Homo sapiens: one gene and its partners. The protein of the gene in region 1 interacts with the protein of each later gene in a pairwise test. Each region holds a gene or a part of one and is shown in the gene's direction. Other genes may lie near its edges. The genes, in order: COQ8A, MAOB, FAM167A, CCDC34, TPD52L2, AKR1C8 and SH3GLB1.

Region 1 (4,218 bases):
GGGGAAATGATATTCCATGGGGAGGAGGGAGCAGGATGTGGAAGCTGGAAAACCTGTGTGGGTGTTGGGCGGGGCCGGGGGTCCATTCTGGCTGAAGCGTTGGGGCACGGAGGCATCTAGCGAGAGGTATCGCTGCAGAGGTGTCTGGGGCTCCACAGTGAAGGGCCTTGCTGGCCAGGCCAGACCAGGGAGAGTGGAGATCAGCAAGGAGATGGCCACCTCTCCTGGGTCTGTGGTCCCCTTGCACCCTGCTGAGCCTCTTCTCATTTCTCGTTGCGTGTGTGGTTGTTGTCTGTCTAGGATTGCCCCTTGTCTGGGTTAACTGGGTGATTTTAAAAGCTATCGAGGTTTTACATACACATGTAGTGCCTAAGGGTTGTGTGTGACCTCAGGGCAGAACATGTTTATTTAACTTCCATACCAGTGATGTGTGCATGTCCACACCTGGCCTGTGTGTGGCATTTGGAGGTGATGCTAATAAAGGTTGGTGCTGGTGTTGAGTGTGGCAAGACTGAGGGCCGTGTGCCCGATGGCTCCTCCTAGCTCTTGCACACCCAGAGGCAGTCTTCAGTGTAGGGCGTCTGCCTCTTTCCACTATTTATGTTTAAGATCAAACTGGCTCTGGAACCAAGCTTTGCCTCTAGTGGGTAGGATCACTGGTGCTGAGAATTGTGATACCCTCAGTCCTGGCAGCTGACAAACTTTCCAGAGCAGGGAGTTTGGCCAGATGGCCTTTGAGAGCCCAGCTGGCCCCAGAATTTTTATGACTCAATTTTCTGTAACCAGGAAGACACATTTCAGGATGTAAACCTTGCTGATGTCTCATATTGAGTGACTATTGATTTAACAAAAAAGGAGTTATTGATTTGGGGCAGTGTTCTTCTCTGCTATCTCTCAGCTTCCTAGGCAGTAAGAAGAAAGGACTGGAGCCTGAGTCAGACAGGTGTGGAAGGGTCCAGCATCCCACAGCTTTGGCCCTTAGGAGATTGCTCAGCCTTGATGAGCTTTAATTATCCTATCAATGAGTGGGGATAATACCTCACCAGGTCTTTGTAAGAACTAGAGGTAATATAAAGTGACAGGCAGACAGAGGGGAATAATAAATGGTAGCTGTTCTTGTTATTATTCCTATTTCATTGAGATATTAAACCTGAAGTAAAAGTGTTTTGAAAGATTAAGAATATAAAACCGAGGCCAGGCACGGTGACTCACACCTATAATCCCAGCACTTTGGGAGGCCGAGGTGGGCAGATCACTTGAGGTCGGGGGTTCGAGACCAGCCTGAGCAACATGGTGAAACCCTGTCTCTACTAAAAATACAAACAAATTAGCCAGGTGTGGTGGTACCCACCTGTAGTCCTAGCTACTCAGGATAATCACCTGTGCCTGGGGAGGTTGAGGCTGCAGTGAGCTGTGATCATGCCACTGAATTCCAACCTAGGCAACAGTAAGACCCTGTCTCAAAAAAATATATATATATATATATCTATCTGCCTGGCATGTAGTATGGGCCCAATATAGAGAAAGTCAACAGGACTCCGTCATTAAGAACAGGAATGCACTGAGCTGTCTGTGGGGTAGTCTACCACCCAGCTTGGTGCCTCGCACTTGGTTGGCATTCAGTAGTATTTGTGGAGTGACCAAAGTTAATTTAGAAGAATGGTCTGGAAATTATTCTAGAATACAGCCCCTCTCCCCAACCCAAGGATCTGCTTTAATTTCCTATGGCTGTTGTGATAAATTACCACAAAGTTTGTGGCTCAAAGCATCATAAATGTATGATCTTACAGTTCTGGAGGTTAGAAGTCTGAAATTGGTCTCACTAGGCTAGAATCAAGGTATCAGCTGGGCTGGTTCATTTCTGGAGGCTCAAGGGCAGGACCCGACCCCTTGCCTTTTCCAGCCTAGAGGCTGCCTGCATTCCTTGGCTTGTGGCCTCTTCCTCACAATGGCATCACTCCAGCCTCACTTCTGTCTCCCATCACCTCGTTCTGACTCTGCCCTGCCTGCCTCCCTCTTATATGGGCCCTTGTGATTACATTGGGCCCACCTGGATAATCCCCCATCTCAGGATCCCTGACTTCATCATATCTGCAAAGTCCCATTTGCAGGTAACATTCACAGGTTCTGGGGATTGTGGTATGGGTATCTTTGAGACACCATTATTCAGCCTACCACAGCCACCCACAGTATTTTGGCCAGATTTAAAGACAACCCTGTAAGCGTCTGAAAGAAACGTTGAAAGAAACCCTTCAACCTCAACTTTAGGATCCTTAATTACCTTCCTGGGTGGCAGTGGTTCGTGAATTCAGTCAACGCTTGCGCTTGTAATTTGTGTGGGTGGATCACTCTGTGTGTGTGGGTGGAGTGGGAAGAGTCAGAGTTGTCTGAGACAAGAGCCTCCCACAAGGAGCTTATAGTTTGAAGAGAAGAGAGGTCCATGTGCAAGAAGAAGAGTAACTTACAATGTAGGAATCTGACCAGCAAGTTAGATCAGCTGTCAGGAGAACGTAAATATGGAAGAGCTGGGAATCAAGGGCCTGAATAGGAATACGTTCTTGAATTTATATGGTGCTTTAACACATTTCAAAGTATATCCACCCACCCCTCCATTTATATTGGACAATATAATAACTTATACCATCATTTCGAGGAGAGGAAACAGGTCAGAGATGGTTCGAGAATATGCCTGGAGCAGCCCAGCTGGTCAGGGCAGAGCTGATTCCCAGCCCCAAGGCCCCAAGGCCCTCACCCTTGGCTAATGGGTGGGTTTTCAGACGTACAGAGATGAAGGGGCGAGCGGGCCTGCCTGAGAAAGTAGGACCTGCAGAGTGGAGTGCGCTCACATGGCTCGCGCGTAGCTGGAGGCTGGAAAGGAGGCCGGGGGCCTGATTTCGATGCCTGGGACTTCAGGCGCAGGAGTTTGGGTTTTATATATATGTCTACATACATGTCTACAGGTAGAGGAGCCATTTGAGCAACGCGTTGGCATGATGAACGTGGGTTTTTTTATAGGGAGAGGAATCTGGCAGGAGAGTGTTCCATGGCTCGGAGCTGGGGAGCTTGTGGGAGTTAGAGGGGTTTTCTTCCCAACTGCCTCTCCCTGAATGTACCTGGACAAAAGCCTCCCATGCTGTTTTCTCCTTTAAGGTGAAGTGGTAAGGAATACCAGTGGACATTTGTGTCCCTGGTTTCGAAGCAGGCTGCCAGCACTTTGGACTGCCTCTCCTGAATGATGCCTCATACCACAGCACTAAATAAACCACACTGGTCCTCCCCAGCCCAGCCTTCCTCCCAACTCAGGTATGAGACTGTGCCTGGCAGGAACAACTGCGGGTTATCCAGACTGATCCCATTCACCCTAACCGTTGGTCTCACCAAGTCTGAACTTCATTCCAGAATGTCTGTGTGCTTGCAATACTACTACTAATAATAATGGCATTAGCTAATGGTTTTTAAGCACCTACTATATGTCCTGAATGCTGTTACATGGATTTATCCAGTCCTTTCAAGAACAGATGAGGAAACTGAGGCACAAAGATAAGCTCACATGACTTGATTTAGGTCACACTAGCAAGTCAGTGGCAGAGTCATGATGTGAACCCAGATCACCTAACCTCAGAGCATCTTAACCATGTCACCAGTATCACTTCCTGAGCCAAATATTTTAATTTAAATGTTTTAAGCAGTAAACTTCACTAGGTTTTTAGTCAGAAAACTAAATTGCCATCAGGACCTTGCGCTTGGCTGGTTGGCCTTTAAAAGCCTTGTGTGTCATCGGCTATATCAACTCACAGAGTGGGAGAGGCTGCTTGGGACCCTCTGTTGCCTGCCTGTGGTTGGAGCTCTGAGCCCATGCAGGTTCGCTCACAGTGTTGGGTCCTTCTCTGGACTATCATCAGAGGCTGGAACTTTGCCTTCTGCTGCTTTTATATCACCCCCAACCCTGCCCAGCTCCCAACCCAGTGCTCACCACAGGGCAACTCACCCAGGGAATCCTAAGAATATCTTAATCTTCCAATGGATGGAGAATGGAGGTTTGCAGCCTGGGACATCAAAAACACACTGTTTTGCTCTTTTTCTCCTCTTACCTGTTAAACAGGTTGCCTAGCTCCTGAGCCATGATGGATCCAGGTCCCAGCTTTACTTCTTAAAAGCTGTGTGACTTCGGGCAAATTACTTAACCACTCTGTGCCTTAGCACCCTCATCTGTAAAAT
Region 2 (4,218 bases), on another chromosome or scaffold:
TTAGGTTTCAGTTATTTATTACTCCCTTTACTGTATGCCCCTCAATCCACCTAAAAAATAAGGAAGAAAAGAAATAGGATTTTAGGAAGCAACAAATAAAATACTACTTTTATTTTAAATTGACGTCTGGATATGTGTTTTAGTTAGATATTACAAATTGCCTCTGCAAGGAAGGCATGAGCTAGCAATTTCCATCCCTTCAATTATCCTGAGAAATCTTACAAAACTAACTGTAAGTCGCTTTAATGTATATATGACACCATTTCACAGGCTGTAATGATGGGGACTGTCATAGACGGGCTGTCAGGTTGTTACAGCTGCAAATAATGTCAATAATTGGTATGTGTGTTAGGCATGATTCTACAAACTTCTAGGGTCAAGATACAGTAAAGTAGAGAGATGCCCCTTGGTGAGTAGCTGCACTTCCAAGGCTGTCAGCTGACTAATTAGAAAACATTTTGAGGTATCAAAAGCACGAGTTTTGCGTCAAGTACGATCTGACTTGAAGTTGTGTCGTTATATATTCCTAAACTGTCCGAGACTCCGTTTTCTAGCATGTGAACTGTGGAAAAATAATAGATATTTGATACGGTTGTTGCAACAATTTAACAAGATAATGATTTTAAAGACAATGGAGTGTGGAAAGAGTTCAATAAATGGAAGACAATATCATTTATCCCAACCATTGTCAGCATTACCAGGTGGAAAATGCTGCCTCAGATATAACAAGATTAACAATATGCAAACTTCATGTCAAAGTCAAAAGGGGAATTGGACCTTATTAAAGAAATCCCAGAGTGCACACTACTACTGATGAATTTTATGCTGTGCTAGATATAATGGAGTCCTCGAAATTGCATGAGATAGTTTGCTTTCTGGTGTGCTTCCTGATAGGTGATAACCTCTCACCATTTACCTGCCAATGTCAAGCAAAAGCTTACCCATTTATGCTCTATTAATTGTTTGTCCCCTCATCCATTATTTGAGCTTGTCTTCTGTTAGGCAGTAAAATAACTGAATAGATAACTGTGACTAATTTTGTGTTTGGTACAGCACCTAGCATATCCTTTGCATGTTATGGATGTTTAAAAAATTTTGTTTAACTGATATTTCTCATCAATCATTCATTCGTTCAATCATGCAACAAGTAATTATTGAGTGCTTACAATGTTCCAAGCACTATTTTGTTAAAGGGGACACTATGGTGAGTGAGAAACAGAAGATCCTTGTTCTCATAGGTTGATATTCTAGTGGGGGGAGACAGCAATTAAAAAGAATTAACCAATAATCAAGACAATTTCAGACAGTGAAAAGAGTTATAAAGATACTATACAGTAGCAAAATGATAGAGAATGTCAGGATGCTGGGAATATGGAAGCCAGTGGTCGTTTTCATAGACAAATGTGAATATGTCTTTCTAAGGAAACATTAGAGTAAAAAGAAGAGGGTACAAGATGAGACAGAAAAGGTAGGCATGGGCTGGATCACATAGGGCTCTGGAAGCCATGGTGTAAGATCTGAATCTTATTCTGGTTTTAATAGGATACCACTGGAGACTTTTTAAGCAAGAAAATGACATGATTTGATTTATACTTCAGAGAGAGCATCATGGTAGGGAGGGAGGGAAAAGCCTCTGGCTTTGAGTGTGGTGAACAGATACCAGGTGAGGATGAATGGAGGCAGAGAGGCCAGTCTGAAGGAAGTAATTGCAGTACTCCTGGAAAGAGATGGATTCTAAATTTGTGGTGAAGGTGGAGTGATGTGGTGAGAGATAATGGGACTTCCCAATGAATTGGATGGGGGAAGATTGATGGAAAGAGAGAAATAATGTTTGATTTCTAGAGTGTTGGTTTTTACCACTGAGTAAATGATGGTGCTTTTTACTGAGATGGGGATCACTGGAAGAGCAGCAGGAATGTAAGGAGAAATCATGAAAGCACAGAATCTGGAATAGAAGCTGATTCTGAGTAAGGTGTTTTGTTTACAGGGAAAATAATCTGATATTTCAAAAACCTCCGATGTCACGTTTTGTAATATTAGATTCTAGTGACAATTTTTTGACCTTACCACATTGTTTTAAACTTAACCAAGAAAATGTGTTACTTAAATAATTTTTAGAGAATTAAGAAGCTGCTCTCCTGCGTTTGCCAAGTTTGCTCTTGTTTCTTCCTGTGCAGATCTGCAAAGCAGCTTGCCACTCTCTTTGTGAACCTGTGTGTCACTGCAGAGACCCATGAGGTCTCTGCTCTCTGGTTCCTGTGGTATGTGAAGCAGTGTGGAGGCACAACAAGAATCATCTCGACAACAAATGGAGGACAGGTACCCATCCATTCTTCCACAGTCCCAATGGAAAAACACTGCTACTGAAATGAAAGATCATCATCCTTCAATCATGAACTGCTGAAGTGGGAAGCAGGCTTGTGGCTTTTAGAGCATTACCATGGCAGCTCAAAGTGTTTCTTGTAAGGCAGTCTGTTGTCAGGTACCCACTGTGAGAACCCAGTGTCCAATGTAATTTTAAAGCTAGGCTTGTCTCTCTTTATGCACTGTGGCCATTTTCCATACGCTCAATTATTATTTGGTAAGTTTGTAGGAGACCATCTGAATTAAGCTTAGCTTGAGCACTTCTTGGAAAGCTTATAAAGGAAATTCAGTAATGCATTTTCAATTTAAAACACACACTATTCATGGAATTCATTTATCTATTCATTCATTCAATGCCCATTTCTTGAGCCCCGGCACTGTATAAGGCACTGTGCTAGACACAGTAGGAACATATTGGAGTTCTTAAATAATCTGCTTGGTTGTCATGTTCCATTCTTCTCTCTCCCCCTCCTCCTCTTCTTTCTTTCTCTTCTCCTCCTCCCCCTCCTCTTTCTCCTCCTCCTTTTCTCTTTCTCCCTCTCCTTCTCCTTCTCTGACCTTAACTGAAAATTGAGGAGGAGGCAGCCAGGTCAACTGTGTGCATAGCCAGGTAGAACATTTGGAAGTTTTAGCAAGGCTGAGGGCAGGTGGGTACAGTGAGGTGAAATGAGTTCGGTGGCTACAGAAGCAGCAGGCATCTGACCCAGGATAAGATGGGCAGCCTGCAACAGGGAGTAGGCTGGCCTGGGGGAAGGGGACATGGTGGGAGGCAGGGAAGTTCTGCGCTTGAGCCACAAAGCAAGGGGAAGCAGGCTTAGGTCTGCTCAGGCAAGCTAGGGAAGAGCTTTAGGTACAGCTTCACCAGTTCCAGCTCTAAGCAAAAGACTGCAGATAGGACAGAGAGCAGGGATGGTGACCAGAAAGGTGGGATACAGGGGTCATTCTGAAGATGTCCAGCTAAGGTTGGAGTCTGGGAATCTACAAGAGCATAGCTTGTAAAGTAACTTAGAAATCCTGTAACTTTGTCCAAAGACAGCAATTCCTACTTAGAAAACCATGGTGAAAGCCACTATTCACTGCAGCAAAATGAAATGTTAGACATCTCAGAGTAGACATATGTGAGGACAACTAAGAATTTAGCAATTTATGCCCATTCCTGCGTTTCTCTTTCACCTCCTTTTCTCTTTCCAGGAGAGGAAATTTGTGGGCGGATCTGGTCAAGTGAGTGAGCGGATAATGGACCTCCTTGGAGACCGAGTGAAGCTGGAGAGGCCTGTGATCTACATTGACCAGACAAGAGAAAATGTCCTTGTGGAGACCCTAAACCATGAGATGTATGAGGTAACTGTGATATTGTGAAATATATATTTGATCTTCATCCCAGTTTCCTGGCATACAACTTTAAAAATTCTTAGAATCTCCAGAGTGATGTCCTTTGATGCCAATGATTGATGGCTGGCAGCCCCTAGGTAGCTTCAGGATGGGGCTGGTCACAGGAAAGACCATGGAAAGACTAGAGGGTTGGGACTTTCAGCCCCACCCCCAGCCTCCAGGGAGGGGATGGGGCAAGGGGCTGAAGGTTGAATTGATCACCAGAGGCCAATGATTTAATCAATTGTGCCTACATAAGGAAGCCTCCATAAAAACCCAAAACGACCGAGTTCTGGGAGCTTCTGGATATCTGCACAACTGGAGGTTCCTTGAGAATGGCATGCCTGGGGAGGGCATGAAAGCTCCATGCCCTTTCTCACAACTCTTGCCCAATGCACCTCTTCCTCTGTACCCTTTGTAATATCCTTTATAATAAAACAGTAAACATGTTTCCCTGAGTTCTGTGAGCCACTGTAGCAAATC
Region 3 (4,218 bases), on another chromosome or scaffold:
ATTAAATGTGTTAATACATGTAAAGCTTTTAGCACCACAGCTCGTGTGGTGTGCTGTAAGCATTAGCTAATGTTGCGATGACATAATTGTTTCTCTGATGTGCTCGGGTTGTCCTGGGTACACACAGCCCAGCCTGGGCAAATCAAGCAAAACTTCCCCCAGGAGAAAATCCCTGAGAACTGAACTAAGGCACAGAAGGGAGTGAAGGGCTTTCCAGGCTGGAGGAAAGCTTGTGCCGAGTCAGGGGTGTGAAAGAGCATGGTGTCCGGCGGGACAGGAGTGCTGGGTCGGGGTTGGAAAGATTGTGTCTTATGGAGAAGAAACGAAAGGGTTCTAGTGGAGAATGCGAGGCTGGAAGGAACAGCAGGAGCGCGTGGTGAGAGGAGGTGTGGAGGGGATGGGTCAGCAGTGCCTGCGTCTTCCCCTGCCCTTGGGAGCCCATCGAGGAAGTGGATGTGACCGTTTTCCAGGTGAACAGATTAGGTCATAATGAGACAAGGTGTTGGCTGAGCTGCCCCCACCTGGCTCCTCCAGCAGCCAGAGGAGTTAGCTCATGGTTGGCGAAGGCTCCTCCAAGGAGCCGCTGTGGGCCTGGGAGCCAGGGAGCTTGTTGGAACAGCAGTCTCTGTGTGTGGCATGGGTCCTCGGCACTGGCACACAGAGCTGCAGAAAGGCTGACGCGCCCCCCCAAGGGCTTGTCCCCACTGCTGCTGGGTGGCCTGCCTGGCGGGGCGTGCCTGGGCCTGGTGGGATTACAGGGTCTGATGTCGTTTTTCTAGACACCCTAGGTCCCAGGTCTGGCAGCGTCCTTTGGCTTCCTTCTCCGGCCCCTCCACCCCTAGGAACGACCCAGGTTACATGTAAAGAAAGCCCGTTTGTTTAGAGTGTTGGGGGGCTCTTCCTCCCGGGGCCTGGGCCCCAGGAGTCCCTGGTTTGTCAAGCGAGGGGAGGCCTCCACTGCTTTTCCAGCCCAGGAAGCTGCCCAGTGCTGGCATCTGTTCCCCGGCACCCGGCCAGCACCTCTCTGCCGGCTCAGGCCGGGTCCAGCTCAGTGCCCAGTGAGCAGTGACAAGCTTTTCTGCTGTCACGTCCCTGCGCCTGTGTGGGTGACATTCCAGCTGAGCTCCTGTGCCTAGTGGGAGGGAAGAAACCCCTTTGGGCTTGTTCAGGCACCAGGGCACCCAGGGGGACAGTGCTCCCCAAACACTGACGACCAGGAAAACACATGCTGCTTGAGCAACTCCTCGCGGTCTGACTGTGCTGGGGGCAATCCCATTCCTGCAGCAGCTCCTCACCATCTGGCTGTGCTGGGGGCAATCCCGTTCCTGCCAGCTACGGGTGACCACCTGCTCTAAAATAGTGACTCCCCAACTCAGGCCTCTCCACATTGCACACACGCCTATTCAGGTGGGTACAGCTCTTTACAGTTTAAAGAGAGCTCTCACATACCAGGTTCCATAGATCCTCAGCCATTGCACAGATTAGGGAACTGAGGCCACGAGGAAAGGACTGAGCCTGGGTGCTCGGCTTGTCAGCAGTGCTGGGACCAGAAACCAGGCTTCTGGGGCCTGGCCTTGGTCTGCCATGCAGAGAGCACAGGGTGGAGTCTCTCCAACACCCCGAGCCGTGGGCGGGGCATTCACAATGTGAGCAGAGAGGGAAGGGAGCAGGCATGGAATGGTTTTAGTAAGTGGAGCTGTTCTCTCCCTTCTATGGCAGAACAGACTCCACTAAGTTTTGAGACCTGAAAATCTGGGGGAGGTGGGATCAACTGACTTCGTGTCGTTTGGTGTCCAGGGAAGGATGTGAGGGGGCAGGGATTGTCTTGGGCCACCCAGCAGGTCAGAGACCAACAGAGTGTCTGCTCAGTGCAGTTGGAGGGTCATGATCTGTCATGTGACGGTGATATAACTCTGATAGGTTATGTCATCTTAATAATGACATTTTAAAAACCATGACTAAGGCTACATGACTATGTCTAGGGCTTCCTGTAGACCAGGCAGTGTGCTGAGAGCTCACATTTGTAACCTTATTGAATCCCTGATTAGGACTTACGAGGTAGATGTTATTATCCCCAGAACTAGCCTCATGGCTGTGGGCAGTGGCACAGGGCCCCTCGTGTGGGTTCATGCTCTGCTGTCCCTGTCTTGAAATTCTTAGAACTTTTTTTTTTTTTTTTTTTAAGACAGAGTCTCGCCCTGTCGCCCAGGCTGGAATGCAGTAGTGCGATCTTGGCTCACTGCAACCTCTGCCTCCTGGTTTCAAGCGATTCTCCTGCCCCAGTCTCCCAAGTAGCTGGGATTACAGGCGTGCGCCACTACGCCCAGCTAATTTTTGTATTTTTAGTAGAGACGGGGTTTCACTATGTTGGTCAGGCTGGTCTTGAACTCTTGACCTCGTGATCCACCCGCCTCGGCCTCCCAAAGTGCTGGGATTACAGATATGAGCCACGGCGCCCGGCCAATTCTTAGAACTTTTTAAACAAGGAGCCCCGCATCTTCGTTTCATACTGAGCCTTGTGAATTATGTAGTCGTTCCGGTTGTTCTCATTTCTCAGAAGAGGACACAGAGGCCCAGAGTGGTCATGAAGCAATGTGCCAGCGTCACAAAGCCAATGGCTGCCCTGGAGCTCTAACCCAGAGCCCACACTCTCCAGAGTAGAAAGAGGCTGAGACAGAGTCAAATGACTGTGCCCAGGTCCAGCTGCTGGCACCTGCCTGTGACCAGGAGGTGAGGCACTTCACCTGCCCTAGCCTCGATTTCTCCTTGGTGAAATGGGGTGATCCCGCCTGCCTCTGGGGGCTACTTTGGGGCTCACATGGGCAGATGTGCACACTGTGTTTTCTGCACTTCACCAAGCTCAGCAGATCTGAGGACCATCACTAGCTGGTCACAGTTCACAGGGGCTAATGCCCGTGCCACCAGATGGTCCTGACATGGTCTATGCAGGCCTTCACCTGAGGTCAGCAGTTCCAGACCAGCCTGGCCAAGGTGGTGAAACCTTGTCTCTACTAAAAATACAAAAAATTAGCTGGGTATGGTGGCAGCTGCCTGTAACCCCAGCTACTCGGGAGGCTGAGGCAGGAGAATCGCTTGAACCCAAGAGGTGGAGGTGGCAGTGAGCCAAGATCACGCCATTGCACTCCAGCCTGGGTGACAAGAGTGAAAACTCCGTCTCAAAAAAAAGAAAAAGAAAAGAAACCAATAATTGAAATAAATTGTCTGCAATACAGTTACAGACTTGTAGCAGTTTCCTACCCTGAGAGGAGCCCCTCACCCAGCAGTGGTAGCCCAGTGGGATGCCCTCACCTCTGCAGTGGGAGCCTGCTGGTGGGGGAGGGGGTGGGCCACCAGGGCTCCTCATCCATGTTATCTCCTCACAGAACTCAGGGCGGGAGGGTGCTGCTCATCCGCCTGCAGTTGAATCCTCTCCAGGAAGCTTTGATGGATCTAATCAGAGCTCCCCTGCCAGGGAGAAGGAAGCCCTGTAGGTGCAGCTGCCCCAGACATGCTCAAAACAGATCCTGGCACCTCAGCAAAGAGGCAGACGGCGCCTGGGAGGGGCCCCAGAAAGCAGCTGATAAGTCTTTAGATTTGGACAGATTCTGACCGTGAAACTGCACAGGAGACTCCCATGAGTACATTTCGCATTTGCGGACTTAGCGTGCTAAGTCTTCAGAGAGTGCCGGTGAATTTTAGTTCTGCCAATCTGCTAGAACATAGGAGGTTGGTATTTATCACTCCCATTTTACAGATGAAGAAAATGAGACTTAGCAAGCCTGACAAGACGTAGAGCTAGGCCATCTGATCCCAACTCTAGTGTCTGCATCTGGAGACAGTGGTTCTCCACCCCGGCTGCACACTCGGATCATCGGGGGAGCTGAACACTGCTGTCTAAGTCCCATCTCTCGACCAATTGAATCAGAATCCAGTTCCTCAGGGGGATTCTCGCTTGCTCCAAGCAGAGCTGGAGGTGACAGCGGGTTTCTCTGCTTACCAGTTGGGGTGGACTATTCCTTCTCATTCTCCATGGATGCCCCTTGCTAGGGCAGGCTCGTAGCCTAGGGCGGCAGAGGTCGGGCAGCAGGACGTCCTCCATTCACATCCCCACCACAGGCTGGGGCTGAGGAAAACGTCTGGACTGGAAAGTTCTGCTCTCCTTTCTTAAGCGTCTGCGTGCCATGTCGGAGAGGAATCCCAGGACACCGCGAGGTGGTC
Region 4 (4,218 bases), on another chromosome or scaffold:
CCAACCACAGGTACTACTAAGGTGCAGTAAACCACGTTCTGGTGTTCAGGTTTGGGATAAGAGTTCTGGAGTCCACAATCTGGCTTTTGAGGTCAAACTGCTGACCTCTCTTTGGTGCCCTGGACAGCTTGGGGGTGACAGGATGAAGAGAGCAGGCAACCTGAGTCAGCCCTTTCATTGTTCTGGGTTTTGAGTATTCTGTGTGAAGCAGAGAGCAACCTAGAGCTGTGTGGGATTTTATGCCTTTTCTCCATGCCTCACCTGCCATATTGATCTGACTGGCAAAACGAATCGGGTAAGGCTTCTTTGAGCTAGGCTCAGGCATCAGCTGCACATAATGGATATTACCTCAAGGTATTTTTGGTATAAATAGTGCCATGTTTAGAGGATGCATTGACCTTCAAGGGTATTGGTCAGAACTGAGATTAAGCTCAAAGTTAGCTTCAGACAAGATAATGAGAAGCGTTTTCCTGGAATATTTTACAATGTGCTCTGGGCCTGCTGTTTATTCAGCTTTATCCTGGTTTTTCTACCACTATCCATTAGGAAAACCATGCTGTAATAAATATCTTGTTCACAAATGGCCACTTGTCAAGCCTTTCTTGATTATAAGTAGAGCTGTAGTGTGTGCGCCACACATTTTGAACACATTTGTTATAAATATTAAGGAAGGAAATTTAATATTCAAAGTGTCATTTCTTAAAAGAAAAGCCCACTGATCTGATTGTCTTTCAACAACTGTTTCCTAGGACCCTACTATATTCTAGACCCTAAGCCAGGCTCTTGAAATAAAAAAATGAGTTGAGATATATTTTCTTTAAGGAACTCATGACCTGTGGCAGAGATGAGCAAGTGACAGGAAGCCCAAGAGTTGTGGCTCCAGGCAGTGCTGGAGTTGAATTTTGAAGGGACAGTAGGAGTTCGTCATAAATGACTTACTAAGTACTTACTGAGTGCCTGGAACTATATTAAGTGCTTTAGCATGGATAGTTTCATGCAATTCTGCCTGTAAGGTAGCCAGCCACAACTGTCATCTCCATTTTATAGACAAGAAAACAGAAGCTTAAAGAAGTTTTTTAAAAAATGTACATAGCTTAGCTGGGCGTAGTGGCGGGCGTCTCTAATCTCAGCTACTCGGGAGGCTGAGGCAGGAGAATGGTGTGAACCAGGGAGGCGGAGCTTGCAGTGAGCGGAGATCGCGCCACTGCACTCCAGCCTAGACGACAGAGGGAGACACCGTCTCAAAAAAAAGAAAAAAAAAAGAAAAAAAATGTACATAGCTAGGAAGAAGCAGATAGGATTTCACCCCAGGCTGTTTTACGCCCAAATCTAAGCTCTTAATCTGACTTTATGCGGAGGTGGAAGAAAGGAATTTCAGATTTAGGTGAAAGTTACAGGGCATGGGGCGTGGCACATTCATCAACCTGCAGGGGTTCCTAGTGAGTGAAATGTAGAGTCTGGATCAGCCGTTGGTGAAAGAAGAGGCTGGAAGATAGGCAAAGGGCAGATTCATGGGTGTCAGGCTAAGGAGTTTGGATTTTATCCTGTGGGTAAAGATGCCATTGAAGAACTTTAAGATGAGGAGTGACATGATAGAAAGATAACATTTGAGGGATGAATCTGGCAAGAGGTGTGGATAATGATTTGAAAGGGAGAAAGGGAGGCCAGTTTTGTCCAGATGGTGGTTGTAAGGTTGGAGGAAACAAGAATGGCTTTCAAAAATGGAAAGAGGAATTAACATGACTAGGTGATCATGTGGGTATGGGAGGTGGTGGCGGTGGGGGGGGGGGGTCCACATGTTGACAAGGAGCAGGTGGAGTCAAAGAGCTAGGGCTTCTGGCTTGAGTAACTGGCTGGAGGGTGATAACATTCACTGACGTAGGATTGTAAGAGGAGTATACTTTCTTGGTGGGAAGGGTGGTGGGTGGATGGTAGAGGATGATTAGATTTGTTTTCAACTGATTGATATTTAAGTTGAGTTATGTATCACATAGTTGGAAATAAGGATCTGGAACTCAAGATGACGGTCTGGCCTGGAATTACTGATATAGACATCATCAGCATGTAGTGGTAGTTGAAACTGCACTACAGTGGGGGCAGATGGGTTCCTTCTGCAAGACTGGGAAGGAAAGACGCATATAAGAAATAACACATCAACAGTGTCTCTTTCCCACTAGAATGCAAATTTCATAAGGGCATGAATGAATGAAGAAATAATAGTAGCAGAAAATAATGAGTAAGCTGAATCTATGAAGTAGAAAAGTTGTGCAAAGCAGTGGGTGAAGCAATTGGTTGCTATAAGCAGGAATGTGAAAGAGACAAAGAACTGAGTCTGTAATAAACTAGTCTTTAGAGCTACCTTATGTCCTGAACAACCTTGCTTTCTATGGCTGCTGATTGTTAAGCTTTTTCTCAGTTTCATGAGGCTTGTGTATCTGGCCAAGACCCTGTGTTCTTTATTTATGTATATACTTATTTCCCTGCCCCTCTTCTCTTTACCCTGAATTGTTATTTTTCCTTACCCTCAGAAGAGACAGACTGACAGAGGTGCATGGTGGAGATGGAGACTATGGTAGGAGGTAACCAGACTAGAGAGTCATACACACCCTGTCTAAGGATTGGCAAAAGGGTGTCAACCAAAATGTTAAAGAATGTTTTGTGGCTTCTTATTTCAAAACAATTTCAAACTTATAAAAAAGGTGAAATAATATAAAGAACTTTCATTTACCCTTCACCCACAGTCCCTAATTGTTACATGTTTGCTCTATTATTCTCTTTGTGTGCACTACATAATCTTTTTTTCCTGAACTACTTAAGGGCGGGAAAGGGAAGAGTCTGCTTCAGTATCTGATTAGGATTATATGTTGTAATGAGTAATTAGTTATCCAGGTAAGATTTTTAGAAATAAAAAAGTGTTGGCATTGAGGCAAATGTATAGGGTGTGGGTTATCCCAATGGGGTTTTAAATAACGTGGTTTTAGAAGGTGAAGGAATTCAAAGGCAGTTTGATAGGTAAACTAATTCAAATATTAGAATTTCTTTTCATGATTTTTTAAATGTATACTTATGTATAATTCCTGTATATTTGTAAAAATCACAATATTGAAAATACACTATTAAGTTTTGCTTTTACTGTACAGTTAAGTGATTTGGACTAGGAAGCAAAAGAGGTTCTTGTACAAGTACTATAGTAGCCTCTCTTTTGTAGCACTCAGGTTGAATCAGAAAATAACCAAGAAGAACAGAAACAGGTGCGCTTACCAGAAAGCCGCCTGACACCATGGGAGGTGTGGTTTATTGGCAAAGAAAAAGAAGAACGTGACCGGCTGCAACTGAAAGCTCTAGAGGTAAAACTAGACAGTGTTCTTTTTATTTAATCTGTGAGCTCACAAAGTAGAGCTGCAGTTGTAAATTAAAATGTTAATGTTATTATTCCTGAAAACAAAGTCTTTGCATTTATGTTAGTTTACTATATCAAATTTAATAACTAATAAGTTATAATAATAGAAATATGTTCATTGTTAGAGCATTTGGAAAATACAGCTAAGCATAATTAAGAAAATTAAAATCTCTTCTAATTTCACTGTCTGAAGATAATCATTGTTAGTATTATGACATAGCTTTCCAGATTTTCTTCTATGTAAATTATTTTGAAATACGTACAAATGTATGTATAAGTTGTATGTCTACATACACTGGAGCATCAACATATGTACATTTAACTAAAGTAAATTCAACTGTATACACTCGGCAAAATTTTTAACTTTACTGAAACAAAATAGAGGCAAGAATCTACCTGCCCCCCCCCACCACCCCCAACCCCACCCCACCCCACCACCCCCAACCCCACCCCACCCCACCACCCCCAACCCCACCCCACCCCACCGTGTGTCACTCAGTGAGCATGTGCCCTATGTGCTGGGCGGTGGGAAACTGCTTGCTAGTCTTTCAGGGTGTTTCAGTTTCTCTGTGCCTCCCTCACTTATGGACATTTCCATGCGTGAGTCTCTTTTGAACTTTTACTATATGAACTCAAAAAATAAATAGTTGTAGATGCATTTTCACATCTCTTCTTTAATGAGAATATTCACATATTTTTTGAACTCTTACTGTTTCAGAACATGGCAACCAAATAGATTTGGATAATTTGGCATCCCCTAAACCCACTATCTAGACTATCTGAATTCTTCCTATCCAAACACTGAAGCCAGATAGATT
Region 5 (4,218 bases), on another chromosome or scaffold:
GCCACCACGCTAACTAATTTTGTATTTTTAGTAGAGACGGGGTTTCACCATTTTGGTCAAGCTGGTCTCGAACTCCTGACCTCATGTGATCCACCTGCCTCGGCCTCCAAAAGTGCTGGGATTATAGGCATGAGCCACTGCGCCTGGCAGTAAGCCTGTTTCTTTTCAGAATGTTTTGGTCAACAGGGAAAGTGTTACAATAGTCATGTGCTTGGATTTGGAGAGAATCGAAATAGACTGTTTTTCTTTATGTGAAATCTTGTAGACTTTTAGGGTAGTCAGGAAGATGCATTTGACATGAAGAAAAAACAGTGGCTGCAGGAATTTGAATGTGATCTGGGTGTAGTTGAGGTGTGTGGTGGCAGCACACCGCTCTGCACCTCTCTGCCTGCTGGCGGCCTTCTGGCAGTGGGATGAGAATCGGGAGGTAAGTAAAGGGAATTTTGTTTTGCTGCCTCCCTGAAGGAGCTGAATGAGCAGCATGTGCTCCTAGTACGTAATTTTAGCATGTGCTCTGTCAGATGTGTTGAGAGGAAAGTGATGCTTATTGTGTATATTAACCATATTAGGTTCCTTTTTTTAAAAAAAGTGGAAATTTGTCAGGGTATGGTGGCTCACACCTGTAATCCCAACACTTTGGGAGGCCAAGGCGGGCGGATCACCCGAGGTCGGGAATTGGAGACCAGCCTGGCCGACATGACGAAACCCCGTCTCTACTGAAAATACAAAAATAGCCAGCGTGGTGGCGTGCGCCTGTAATCCCAGCTACTCGAAGGCTGAGACAGGAGAATCACTTGAACCCGGGAGACGGAGGTTGCAGTGAGCTGAGATCGCACCATTGCACTCCAGCTTGGGAGGCAGAGTGAGACTCCATCAAAAAAAAAAGGTGGAAGGTCTGTTAGATTGAGCTGCTTTCTCTGTAGCAAGGGTTTCCTGCCTCTGACGATAGTATTCTCACTGGGAAGCCAGAATTCGGGTTTGCCTGCCTTGGGCCGGCATTTGTCGTGCCCTGAAGCAGCACAAGTGGCATTGGCTTTTCAGCTCAGGTGGTCTGAGGTGTGGCTGCCCTCGTCTACTGCCCATGCTGTCCTCACAGACCTTTCAGAGAAGAGGTGTTAGTCTCCAGGGTCTCACCCACTCCCACCTGTGCTTTTGTCCTGCTAGAGACCTCTACCGTATTTACTTGGAACTAACTTATTTGACACTTTGTGGCCTCATTTTGTCTCTGGCAGATATCAACCTGAATTCTCCTAACAAAGGTCTGCTGTCTGACTCCATGACGGATGTTCCTGTCGACACAGGTGTGGCTGCCCGGACTCCTGCTGTTGAGGGTCTGACAGAGGCTGAGGAGGAGGAGCTCAGGGCTGAGCTTACCAAGGTGCTGTGGCTTGGCTGTCTGTCCTGGGGTGAATTGGAGTTAAGGCCCTCTTGGATTAGTGAGAGGCCAGGGTACTGGCCACGCTCGGGAGGAATTGCCCTGGGTGGTCACCTACCCTGCTCTGTGTTCCGACTGATAACGGGGTTCTCTTTGTATGTGCCCAGCTCCATGCACTGGACTCAGAGCCACCTGGCAGTGGAGACAGGGCATGACTCCCTTCCCATACCTCTGTGCCTGGCCCTTCCTAAGTGCTCCCTGAGGAGTGTTCACACATGAACCGCCTCTGAGCAGCCATCTGCTGGGAGTGTCTCTGTTGGAATTAACACTTGATAATCATTTTTAAGACCCCATGAATCTTTCTTGTCCTGGATCTTAAGTTTTCTTTTAAACATATTTATTTTGGCTGGATGCAGTGGCTCATGCCTGTAATTCCAGCGCCTTAGGAGGACAGGGTGGTAAGGTGGGAAGATCACTTGAGCCCAGGAGTTTGAGAGCAGCCTGGGCAACACAGTGAGACCTTGTCTCTACCCCCAAAAATTAGCCAGGTGTGGTGGCATGTGCCTGTAGTCCCAGCTACTCAGGAGGCTGAGGTGAGAGGATTGCTTGAGGCCAGGAGGTCAAGGCTTCAGTGAGCTGTGATTGCATCCTGCACAGCAGCCTGGGTGACAGGGCGAGACCCTGTCTCAAAAACAAAACAAAAACTTCTTTTCTAAAAAGTATTTATGTGATCTTCTTTAAGTGAGAGTCCCTTAAGAGTAATGTAGGAATTAAGAACAAAAGCCTCCAACCATAATTTTTAGTCAAACCAACTGCCAAGAGTTTTCTTTTCACCCTGTGATGTGGTTTAATTCCAGAATCTGGGTCCAGGCCTAGGTCTGAGTAAGGTTGGTTGTGCCGCTGAGTCTGAGGACCAGGTTTCAGATCCTGAGGACATCACACAGCTATTTCTAGCCTAGAAGATTAAAGGAGAGTAGCAGGAAGTCCAAGGACACTTTGCTTTCCATTTAACTTCAGAATATGTGAGTTTAGAAACTAAATCCACAAGGTTTTTTTCAGAGTTGAATTACAATAAGGTGAAGTTTTTTTTTTTTTTTTTTTTTTTTTGAGTCGGAGTCTCTGCCGCCCAGGCTGGAGTGCAGTGGCGCAATCTCGGCTCACTGCAACCTCCAACACCCGGGTTCACGCCATTCTCCTGCCTCAGCCTCCTGAGTAGCTGGGACTACAGGCGCCCACCACCACGCCCGGCTAATTTTTTTGTGTTTTTAGTCGAGATGGGGTTTGTTTTTTTTTTTTGGAGACAGAGTCTCGCCCTGTCGCCCAGGCTGGAGTGCAATGGTGTGATCTCGGCTCGCTGCAATCTCCGCCTCCCAGGTTCAAGCGATTCTCCTGCCTCAGCCTCCCGAATATCTGGGATTACAGGCGCGTGCCTCCCTGCCCATCTAATTTTCGTATTTTTAGTAGAGACAGAGTTTCACCATGTTGGCCAGGCTGATCTCAAACTCCTGATCTTGTGATCCACCCACCTTGGCCTCCCAGAGTGCTGGGATTACAGGTGTGAGCCACTGTGCCCGGCCCCTACAAGGTGAAGTTCTGTATTGCTTTTTTTTGTTGTTTTTCTTGAGACAGAGTCTTGCTCTGTCGCCCAGGCTAGAGTGCAGTGGCGTGATCTCAGCTCACTGGAGCCTCTGCCTCCCTGGTTCAAGTGATTTTCATGCCTCAGCCTCCCAAGTAGGTGGGATTACAGACGCCTGCCACCACACCTGGCTAATTTTTGTATTTTTAGTAGAGACAGAGTTTCACCATGTTGGCCAGGCTGGTCCCGAACTCCGAGTCTCAAGAGCTCCACCTGGCTCAGCCTCCCGAAGTGCTAGGATTACAAATGCGAGCCGCTGTACCCAGCCAAGAAAGAGAATTTTTTTTTTTTTAAGGACGGAGTCTCACTCTGTCGCCCAGGCTGGAGTGCAGTGGCGTGATCTGGGCTCACTGCAGCCTCCACCTCCTGAGTTGAAGTGATTCTCTTGCCTCAGCCTCCCGAGTAGCTGGGATTACAGGCGCACAGCACCATGCCTGGCTAATTTTTGTATTTTTAGTAGAGACGGAGTTTCACCACGTTGGCCAGGTTGGTCTCGAACTCCAGACCTCAGGTAATCTGCCTGCCTCAGCCTCCCATAGTGCTGGGATTACACGCAAGAAAGAGTTTTTTTTTTTTTTTGAGACTTTTTGCTCTTGTTGCCCAGGCTGGAGTGGAATGGTGCGATCTTGGCTCACTGCAGCCTCTGCCTCCCAGGTTCAAGTGATTCTCCTGTCTCAGCCTCCCGAGTACCTGGGGTTACAGGTGCATGCCACCACGCCTGGCTAATTTTTGTATTTTTGGTAGAGACGGCCTTTCATCATATTGGTCAGGCTGGTCTCGGACTCCTGACCTCAGGTGATCTGCCCGCCTCGGCCTCCCAAAGTGCTGGGATTACAGGCATGAGCTATCGTACCCGGCCAAGAAAGAGAATTTTTAAAGAGAAGCTAGTCATATATGAGCTGAAGATACTGAGAACTCATTCTAAAGTGGTAAAGCTTTGAATGATGCCCCTTTCAGAGGTCATGTTCTTTTTTTTTTTTTTTTTTTTTAAAGACCTGAGAAAGTTCAAGTCTTCATGATCAGGAATCTTTCTGTTGCTCAGTTCTAACTACGTTAAGCACAAAAGATAATTTACCTTTTGGTTCGTGTAACTGACTCTTGCCAAGGTTTGGAACTGACCTCAGGAACACAAGTGTTTTCTTAAGGGTGTTTTTTTCTGTCACCTGTGTCACTGTCCATCTGCCTCCTCCTCTCTGCATATGGAATT
Region 6 (4,218 bases), on another chromosome or scaffold:
ATATGAATAGTTATCAGACCGTTTTAAATCAAATTGTATTGTGCCCACTCCTCTCAACTCTCTGGAGAATTTGGGGAAAAGGAGCAGCGCACTGTAGATTTTCCATCCTGCATCCTTCACATCTGTGTCTGTTCCCTCCCCAACAGGGTGGATCCCGACTGCCCACATCTCTTGGAGGAGCCGATCTTGAAATCCATTGCCAAGAAACACAGTGGAAGCCCAGGCCAGGTCGCCCTGCGCTACCAGCTGCAGCGGGGAGTGGTGGTGCTGGCCAAGAGCTTCTCTCAGGAGAGAATCAAAGAGAACTTCCAGGTAAAGGTTGAGCAGAGTCGCTCCAGAGTGAGCCATGGGTGCTGATCTGGGCGATCTCTCTTACATGGGAGAATGCGACACGTGTCATTCATTCCTGTGCTCTCCACTCTGTGCTAAGGGAGGAGGGCAGTGTGGAAGGATCGACGAGAGGGCACTGAACTCAGAGTCCTCAGGTTTATCATCTCTAGGCTTGGCTTTGCCACTTACTAGTTGGTTGACACTAAGCAAATTTCAACTCACTTATTTTCATCCGTTTCAGGAGTTCTTCTACATGGTAATGAACTTTAAGGACCCTGATTCTTCTCCTTCACCTTCTCTACCTATAAATGCCTATTTGTATTTTAAAATCAAACCCAAATAAAATTAGCTGCTCTGTTAAACTACTGGGACACCCCAGGCCAGTTTTCACCACAAAAGCCCCTGGCCTGGCATGACTCTGTTAGTGAGTTTTTTGTTTATTAATTTTACATCATTTGCTAATACTTCAGTGTGCTCTCTGGACTGTGAGAACCTAAATACAATGGCTCCTTCTGGATTATCTTTTATTACCCTTCCCCTGGCAGTGACTCTAGCAGGTATGAAACTAGGCATAAGTTTACAGACCAACCAAACTAAGAAATTGAGGAGTGAAGTTATCTTGTAAACCCTTCTCCACATCCACTCTGGACCTTGTATTAATCACAGGTCTCCAACTTATTTTGTTTTGAATCCCACAAGAATTTTGAAAAAATATGTAAGCTGTTTCTCATTTTAAAATGACAGCTACAAATTTTATTATGAGTTTAATATTTACAAGAGATGACATTTGAGTCATATATAATGTATTTATTTCAAAATATTGTAGTTCTAGATTAAGTATATTAACTTGTGGAAAAATTAAATAGGTAAATCTAAATCTCATTGTGACAACTTAAACAAAAAATGCCCATTTTATTTTTTGATCCAATTCAAAATGTTAATACCTGCTCTCATGACAACCATATAACTTCTGAAGTACATTTTTAAAAAGAGTGGTGGATAAATGTGTTGGTAGATAGAAAGAAGATGGACGGATACATATAGAGAAAGAGATAAATACATTAGATAGATAGATAGATAGATAGATAGATCTGAGTCTTTCATGAAATTGTGTCCTGGATCACATAATGAAAGTAGCATTTTTTTTTTAACCAAAAAATATCTGTTTTACTATTAATGGGCTCCTCATCAGGGACTATGTGTTGACAAATGAAAACTACTCTTGACTTAAGTAAGAGAGATTTATTAAAAATGCAGAACTCTTTGAACATAAGATCTAAGTGTCTCAAAGATCAATTAGTAAGCATTTTTTATAAGGAAGAGCAAACACAGCTGGAAATAGTATTTAGGGGTCCTGAGGTGAGCAAGTAGAACAGTTGTCCAGAAAATGCTTTTTCTGAGGCAAACAGATTCTTGAGTGGGAGTTTCCTGTGTTCTAAGGCTCTGTCATTCCAAGGCTGGATCAGGTTCCACGGGAAGTGAGGAAACAAATCCCTGACCAAGTGTGGACATGTCCAGGTGGCAGTTATTTTGCATACTTTATTTTCTATTTTAAAATAAAGGATTTCCTTTTTCTGCCTCAAGCAATTCTCAATAAATATTTTAGATTGATGAGTGCACACCTTTCTTTTGAGAAGTGGAGCCCAGTAGGAGAGGGATGGGATGGAGAAGAGGCAGAATGAAGGTGGAAGAGGTCTCAGGTGGAAGACGTCTCAAGCCACATGCACCTGGAAGCTGATGAGGATGAAAATGCTTCCCCCAATGCCATCCTTGCCTCTGCCTCCTGGAAAGTCCTTGTATTCCCATGTAGAAGCTGCTGCCCTGGGGAGGGGTTAATGTGAGTGTTTTCTTCCTTTCAGATTTTTGACTTTGAGTTGACTCCAGAGGACATGAAAGCCATTGATGGCCTCAACAGAAATCTCCGATATGACAAGTTACAATTGTAAGTGATGCTTGTAGATTCTCTCACAGGCTGTTTTCTGTAGTATGCAGGGAAATGGGGAACACATCTTCCCTACATCAGGAAGACAGGCCCAAATTCAGGCATGGGGTGAAATAGGAGATGCCCTGTAGCCTTCAGACCAGAGGTTTCCTCCAGGACTCAATCTCTGACCCAGCAGAAATGTGTCTGTAAGTGAAACTGCCAATGTCTGCACCATTGTGAATCCAATTCTTGAAGGCCCTTACTATCTGTGCCTGGGTCTAGCACTCAGGGCCCACTGCCTATGAGTCTAGAAGGCTCAGTGTGTAGGACCTACAAACCTATAGGGGCCCATCATAACGTTCTCTTTAATTTATATTAAAATCAGAAGAAAAATGAATACAATAATAATGCATATGTAATAATGACTCCATCCAGCTCTATCTTTGTGTTTACATCATGGCAATGGAAACACAATTTAAGTATTAATACAGGATGGGCCCATGAAGGCAAAGGTGCCTGTCTCCTAGGGAAGCCTTAATGTGGTATTCCCTCTTCAGGATACCAACTATTTCTGCAAAAATTTATGTCTTTCTTGGCCCTCTTTACCTACCACAACTCCCATTTCCTCAGCTATATAATCTCACCATGCTGAATTGTGAATGAATTATGAGATTAATAGACCCTCAAATGCTAGTGACTGAGGTGTCAATAGCCTTTACCAAGATAAGATCCTTTGGAGTTTCTCTGGATCCTCAAGGCATGACTCTTACTCCAGTGTCATCTTTGTCCACCTGAAGTCCACCTCTGGAGAGCCCAACATCCCTTGACTTTGGTTTATTTATAAACGTGACGTTCCAGTTGCTCAACTACTGCAGGATCTCAGGACTAAGGAGAGAGAAGGCTAAATAGAGAGGAGTTTAGAGGAAAGTTTAGAAGCAGGGGAAATACAATTTTGGTTGCCAGAGTAAAGACTCAGTCTCCAAAAAAGATCTGAAGAATCCTCCTTTATGTAAAACCACACCAAGATTCTGAGAGGAAACATTTTCAATGAGAAAAATGTGGGAAGTAACTTTTCTGTACCCAGAGGCTAAGTATAAGTCTGTGATCTGCCTTATGAGACTGTGAATGCATTGTCTTACTCATGTCTGTGGCCCTGTGTCAATATGACTCCTGGCACATTTAACTGCTTAGAAGGTACTCTTTAATGTCACCCAATTAAAAAGAACAAATTGTAAAAAAGAAAAATGAACATAAAAAGGAAAACAAACAGTAATTTTAATTACTAACAAGTATCTTTATGATTATATTTAAATAAGTCATAATTGTGTTTTTCAGGTGTGGGTATTAGAAATGCATCTCATCCCCTCCATAGATTAAACCATGTGTGCCGAGGTACAAGTAGGGACGTGGTGGTAAATTCGGGAATTTTAGCCCATCCCAAGTGCTTCTTCAGAAAAACTCTTTGACAGAATGGAAAAAAGTTACTAAATTAATATTTTTTCTCTTTCAGTGCTGCTAATCACCCTTATTTTCCATTTTCTGAAGAATATTGACCATGAGCTATTGAACATTACCACCACAATTTCCTCCTTTTAGGTGACAGAGAGAGGATTTCAGTATTTGATAGAGGAGTAGGAAGTAGGATCTGTAGTTGCAGGTTGCTTGCCTTTCTTTATTTTATGAAATGAAGACTTTAACAAGAAGATGTTTGTTTTTCCTGATTATTAAAGTAATACCCATAAATTTTAGAAAAATAAAAAATACAAAAAAAGACCTGTAATTCTTTCCTTACAGAATACTTATCATTTGATGCATTTTCCTTCATGATTTTTCTAAACAACATGTCTGATATGGTTTGGATCTGTGTCCCCACACAAATATCATGTCAATGATAATCTCCAGTATTGGAGGAGGGATCTGGTGGGAGGTTATTGGATCATAGGGGCGGTCTTTACCCTTGCTGT
Region 7 (4,218 bases), about 140 Mb from region 1:
TGCACCTTACAGTTTACTAATACATTATTCAGAATCTGTGTTACATATTTTCCAAGAAATTTAAATTACTTTTAGAGTATTACCCTTTAGTAATACTGGTGATTAGAGTTTGCATTAAATAGATGTCTTTGATCACACACCCATTTTATTTGTAGTCTTTTTTTTTTCTAAAAGTAGAGTTTGGAATCCAGGCTCCTTATTTAATAATGTGGGTTATATGCCTATCCTGTAGTAAAAGAAGGATTACAGTGCCTGGTATAATGTAGCCGACTCAAAGACAATTCTTTCCGCAAAGCAATATTTAGAGAAAATATATAAAAGGGGATTAAACTTTTATTCTTATGCCACTTTGCCATATTACAAATGAAATATGAAAAAATTAGGTATCAAATTATATTTTAGAAAACATTGAGTTTAATGACTTACTAAGAAGATGCTTATTTACAGTTTGCCTTTTATTTTAGGTTGTTTACACAAAAGTTCTTAATTATTAAACTATACTGCCATCTATTCATTAAAAGATATGCTTAAAATCAACTAGTTTCTCATTAATACCTATTATCAAGAGATTACAAAATCAGTAATGATTTTTGACTTGAAGATGTTGAAAACTAAAATTTTTATGGGTTAATTTAAAATTTTTTGGTAACTAGGAAAGGGATCTTTTTTTAAAAGAAAGAATTAATAGGTCTTTTGCCCTTCTGAAAAGGTGCCATTATTATAATTTTGTTTGAGTCAAGGCAGTATTCTCCTAGTAGATCATAAAATCCTTGAGGGCAAGAAGTACATCAGATGCTGATCATCTTGCTGTAGAAGCCATAAATATTTTTGATTAGTAATTTAAATATTAATTTAGTTGAGATGACTCCTAGTGTCTGTAGTAGACGCATTATTTACAGTGCTTTAGAGAAAATGTATTAAATATTGTATTTGTTATCTTAATAAAGTGTACTTCTGATTAATTATGGAAAAATCCTTTTGCTTCCACCAATGATAAAATTTGGGAAATATTATGTCTTTTACAATTATATATTTAAGTAATAAGATTTAAATTTATAATTTCAATTTTAAAATATGATAGCATTAGCAATGTCCTTATTGTGTGTCTTCCTCCCTTTTATTCATTCATGATAGGATTTAGTTTACTAATTTTGGTGAATAATTATTGAATATCTTGTAGAAAGCAGAAGTGATCTGGGGGAGAAAGCTGTCCAGAGTGCTGCGAACAGACATAGGAGAAAGGAAGCACAGAATATGATTGGATAATAGTAATAGAAATAGAAAATACTAATTTTGGAAATCAGCAAGTATTTACTGGAAGGGTAGTATAGCATGATAAGACTATGACTCAAACAGATGTGAGATTGAATCCCAACAATGACACCTTGGACAAAGTGTTTAATCACCCTGAGTCTCAATTTATTAATCTCTACAATTATTCTTACTTTATTTTAAGATTCTTTCGAGTATTTGTTGTAGAATGCACAGCTTAGTTAATGGAATTTTTGAACATACACTAAGCCTTGACACAGAAGTATGAGAAAGATGTAAATGGATGTGCTGAAATGTGAAACATAGAAACATTGTCATGTGACCCTACAGTACTGCTATTTTCTAAACAGGTTTTCTGTAATTAGACTGTCTCACTCATGTGTAAGGGTTCCATGTATCTTCTGAACTAAAATAGTTAAAAAAAAAAAACCTACTAATTGTGTGTGTTTGTAGAATCTTTATCAGTTAACATATTTTCTTTCTTCCTCAGACTCATACAAATAAATCACTTGGTGCAAATACCCATCTTTGCTCTGTTATACTTTCATACTCTTTTCAAAAAGAATATATATTTATTGAGATACCTGGGAGGTAGTATCATGAGAGTCACAAAGAAAATGTTAAATAATTAAGCAAACAGGCCTTTTTACCTGAAGATTGAAGTGTTTTATTTTCCAAATAATTAACTTTCTAATTGCTGATTTTCCTGAAATACTGTCGGGAGAAAACTTGCCCTGAACCCCAGTTTGTATCAGATAAATTCAGTGACTATTTTATTTTATATTTATTTATTTTATTATTAACTTATTAATTAGAGATAGGGTCTTGCTGTGTCACCCAGAATGGAGTGCAGTGGAGTGCAGCTGGGACTACAGGTGTGCACCACCATACCTGGCTAATTTTTTGGATTTTTTTGTAGAGACGTGGTTTCGCCATGTTGCCTAGGCTGGTCTAGAACTCCTGAGCTCAAGTGATCTGCCTGCCTCAGCCTCCCAAAGTGCTGACATTACAGGCGGGGGCCCCTGCTCCTGGCCATAAGTACTGATTTTGAATTATTGATCTGTTGATTTTTCTATTAATCTATTCTTGGTTATTAACTATAAGTTAAGGATTTCCACAGAGAAATTAATATTTAATATGTGTGAGGGTGATGCTAATGAGCTTAAAGAAATTGTGCAACTGGAAGATAAATCATCAGGACTATACACTCTTTCCTTAGATCTTAACATAGTTCATATCATTCAGTCACAGGTCGTTTGTTACCTACTCAGAGATGCTGTTTCTCTAACTACCCGCATCTCACACTCCTCAAACTCCTGCTCCCCTTTCTAGGCCCAAGTTGCCCATCCCTCCCCCACTGAAGCCTTCCCTGATTCTCCTGCTCTCCCTCTTCCTCTCCCTGAAGAATGAATTCTTTCTCTGTACTTGGATTTGTATGTCACTCAGAAACAAACCAACCATGTTGGTCCGCTTTACCATCTTCATATCTTTATATCCTTATTATCAGATTATTTATTTATCTATTGTCTGTCTTTGCCATTAAAATGTAAGCTTCCTAAGAACAGAAACCTTATATGTTTTGTTGGCTGCTGAAACCCATGTGTTTAGAAGAGTGCCTAGCACATATGTAGGTGCTTAATAAGTATTTGTTGAAGGAATAAACAAAATGAACAAACAAATGGATAAACTTGCTTATTAAAGGGAAATTTATGCATGCAGTTTCAATTTTTAAGGGGCTAAGTGAATTTTTTTTAGATCACTCTTTATAGGTGATGTTCACCTGAGTGAAAGGTATTCCCTTTCTTCCCTTCCTATTGGTCACTTTATCTGGGAGTTATTTTATCTAGCCATTGGTGGTAGACTTTGAACATGTAAAAGTCTAGTAGGAGGTCTGTTGCTTAGAATCTTCAGGGATCTGTAAAGACTACGGGGTTCTCTGTTAAGAATGAGGTTGCATAGTTTATCCAGCTGGCCTTGGGATCAGGGTTTGCTTTTGCTCAGTGCCCAGTCCTCCAGCTACACTGCAAGTTTATGGGCTTAGGCAATAGCTTTGTAACTGCTATTTTTGGTTCTACCCACTAGGTCAGGGGCTGGCTATAGACCATTCTCAAAAAGACCCAAGGCTTTACAAAAGCTATTTAAGCTGTTATTTCTAGCCCCTAAACAGGAGCCTCAGTGGAGATTGTAACCAGAAGTCTAAGAATAGAATTCTAGAGGATCCTTCAGCTTAAGGTGTTGATAATAACCTGAAAGTATTAAACCAAGAAGAAGGATGCTGAAAGAAACAATAAAACTCAGAAAATAGAGTAGCAAACGAGATTTTTGAGAAACGAAAGGAGAGAAAGGCAAGGTGAACACTGTTTTGTCAGCCAGAAGTGAGTCATTACTGAGCACAGAATTAATGCTAGTGATATACCTGTGTTAAGATGGGAGGAAGCCACATATTCTAGAGGAAAATGATGCATGATAAACAGCTTGAGTCATCACCTCTAATGTTTAATTAAAAGTATCCAGAAGGCTGTAGATCTACACAGAATCTTTTTACTGCTTTATTATTATATAGGCAGTGCTACCTTTTCTCAAATACCAGTATATTCAATAATAAAAATTGATTCATTGAGTACGTTTAACCACATTTTATGACCTTTAAAAGATGTCTTCATAGTATGAATAGGATATGTTCCAAAAGTTAGTCTATAAATAAATTGCTGGAACATATCCTCAGCAGCTTAAATGACAGGTTTTATGGTATGTTCTGGGAAACTATTTATCTAACTAGGTGTGATTAAAGTGCTAATAAGACATAAACCACAATAAACATTAACAGCTCTTTCAAAACTTAATAATTACAAGGCACCAAACAAAGTGATTTGCATACACAATCATACTTAATCCCCCAAACACTATAAAATATGTATTGTCTCTCTTTTATAATAGAGGGTACTA

Evidence for each region.
Region 2: the proteins of COQ8A (region 1) and MAOB interact in binary tests that used the Homo sapiens proteins (3 or more experiments, as listed by UniProt).
Region 3: the proteins of COQ8A (region 1) and FAM167A interact in binary tests that used the Homo sapiens proteins (3 or more experiments, as listed by UniProt).
Region 4: the proteins of COQ8A (region 1) and CCDC34 interact in binary tests that used the Homo sapiens proteins (3 or more experiments, as listed by UniProt).
Region 5: the proteins of COQ8A (region 1) and TPD52L2 interact in binary tests that used the Homo sapiens proteins (3 or more experiments, as listed by UniProt).
Region 6: the proteins of COQ8A (region 1) and AKR1C8 interact in binary tests that used the Homo sapiens proteins (3 or more experiments, as listed by UniProt).
Region 7: the proteins of COQ8A (region 1) and SH3GLB1 interact in binary tests that used the Homo sapiens proteins (3 or more experiments, as listed by UniProt).

Annotation. Positions count from the first base shown.
Region 1 is NC_000001.11:226,946,333-226,950,550, forward strand, and holds part of COQ8A (atypical kinase COQ8A, mitochondrial), read left to right. Parts: intron 1-3,150; exon of another isoform or gene 3,151-3,303; intron 3,304-4,218. UniProt on the Homo sapiens protein: Atypical kinase involved in the biosynthesis of coenzyme Q, also named ubiquinone, an essential lipid-soluble electron transporter for aerobic cellular respiration.
Region 2 is NC_000023.11:43,795,226-43,799,443, reverse strand, and holds part of MAOB (amine oxidase [flavin-containing] B), read left to right. Parts: intron 1-2,177; coding exon 2,178-2,319; intron 2,320-3,555; coding exon 3,556-3,705; intron 3,706-4,218.
Region 3 is NC_000008.11:11,446,158-11,450,375, reverse strand, and holds part of FAM167A (protein FAM167A), read left to right. Parts: intron 1-38; exon of another isoform or gene 39-376; intron 377-3,602; exon of another isoform or gene 3,603-3,973; intron 3,974-4,218.
Region 4 is NC_000011.10:27,356,532-27,360,749, reverse strand, and holds part of CCDC34 (coiled-coil domain-containing protein 34), read left to right. Parts: intron 1-3,208; coding exon 3,209-3,347; intron 3,348-4,218. UniProt on the Homo sapiens protein: Involved in spermatogenesis. Has a probable role in anterograde intraflagellar transport which is essential for the formation of sperm flagella.
Region 5 is NC_000020.11:63,868,064-63,872,281, forward strand, and holds part of TPD52L2 (tumor protein D54), read left to right. Parts: intron 1-1,232; coding exon 1,233-1,378; intron 1,379-4,218.
Region 6 is NC_000010.11:5,153,729-5,157,946, reverse strand, and holds the end of AKR1C8 (aldo-keto reductase family 1 member C8), read left to right. Parts: intron 1-146; coding exon 147-312; intron 313-2,189; coding exon 2,190-2,272; exon of another isoform or gene 2,273-3,764; coding exon 3,765-3,807; 3' UTR 3,808-4,027; downstream 4,028-4,218.
Region 7 is NC_000001.11:86,711,076-86,715,293, forward strand, and holds part of SH3GLB1 (endophilin-B1), read left to right. Parts: intron 1-4,218. UniProt on the Homo sapiens protein: May be required for normal outer mitochondrial membrane dynamics. Required for coatomer-mediated retrograde transport in certain cells. May recruit other proteins to membranes with high curvature. May promote membrane fusion.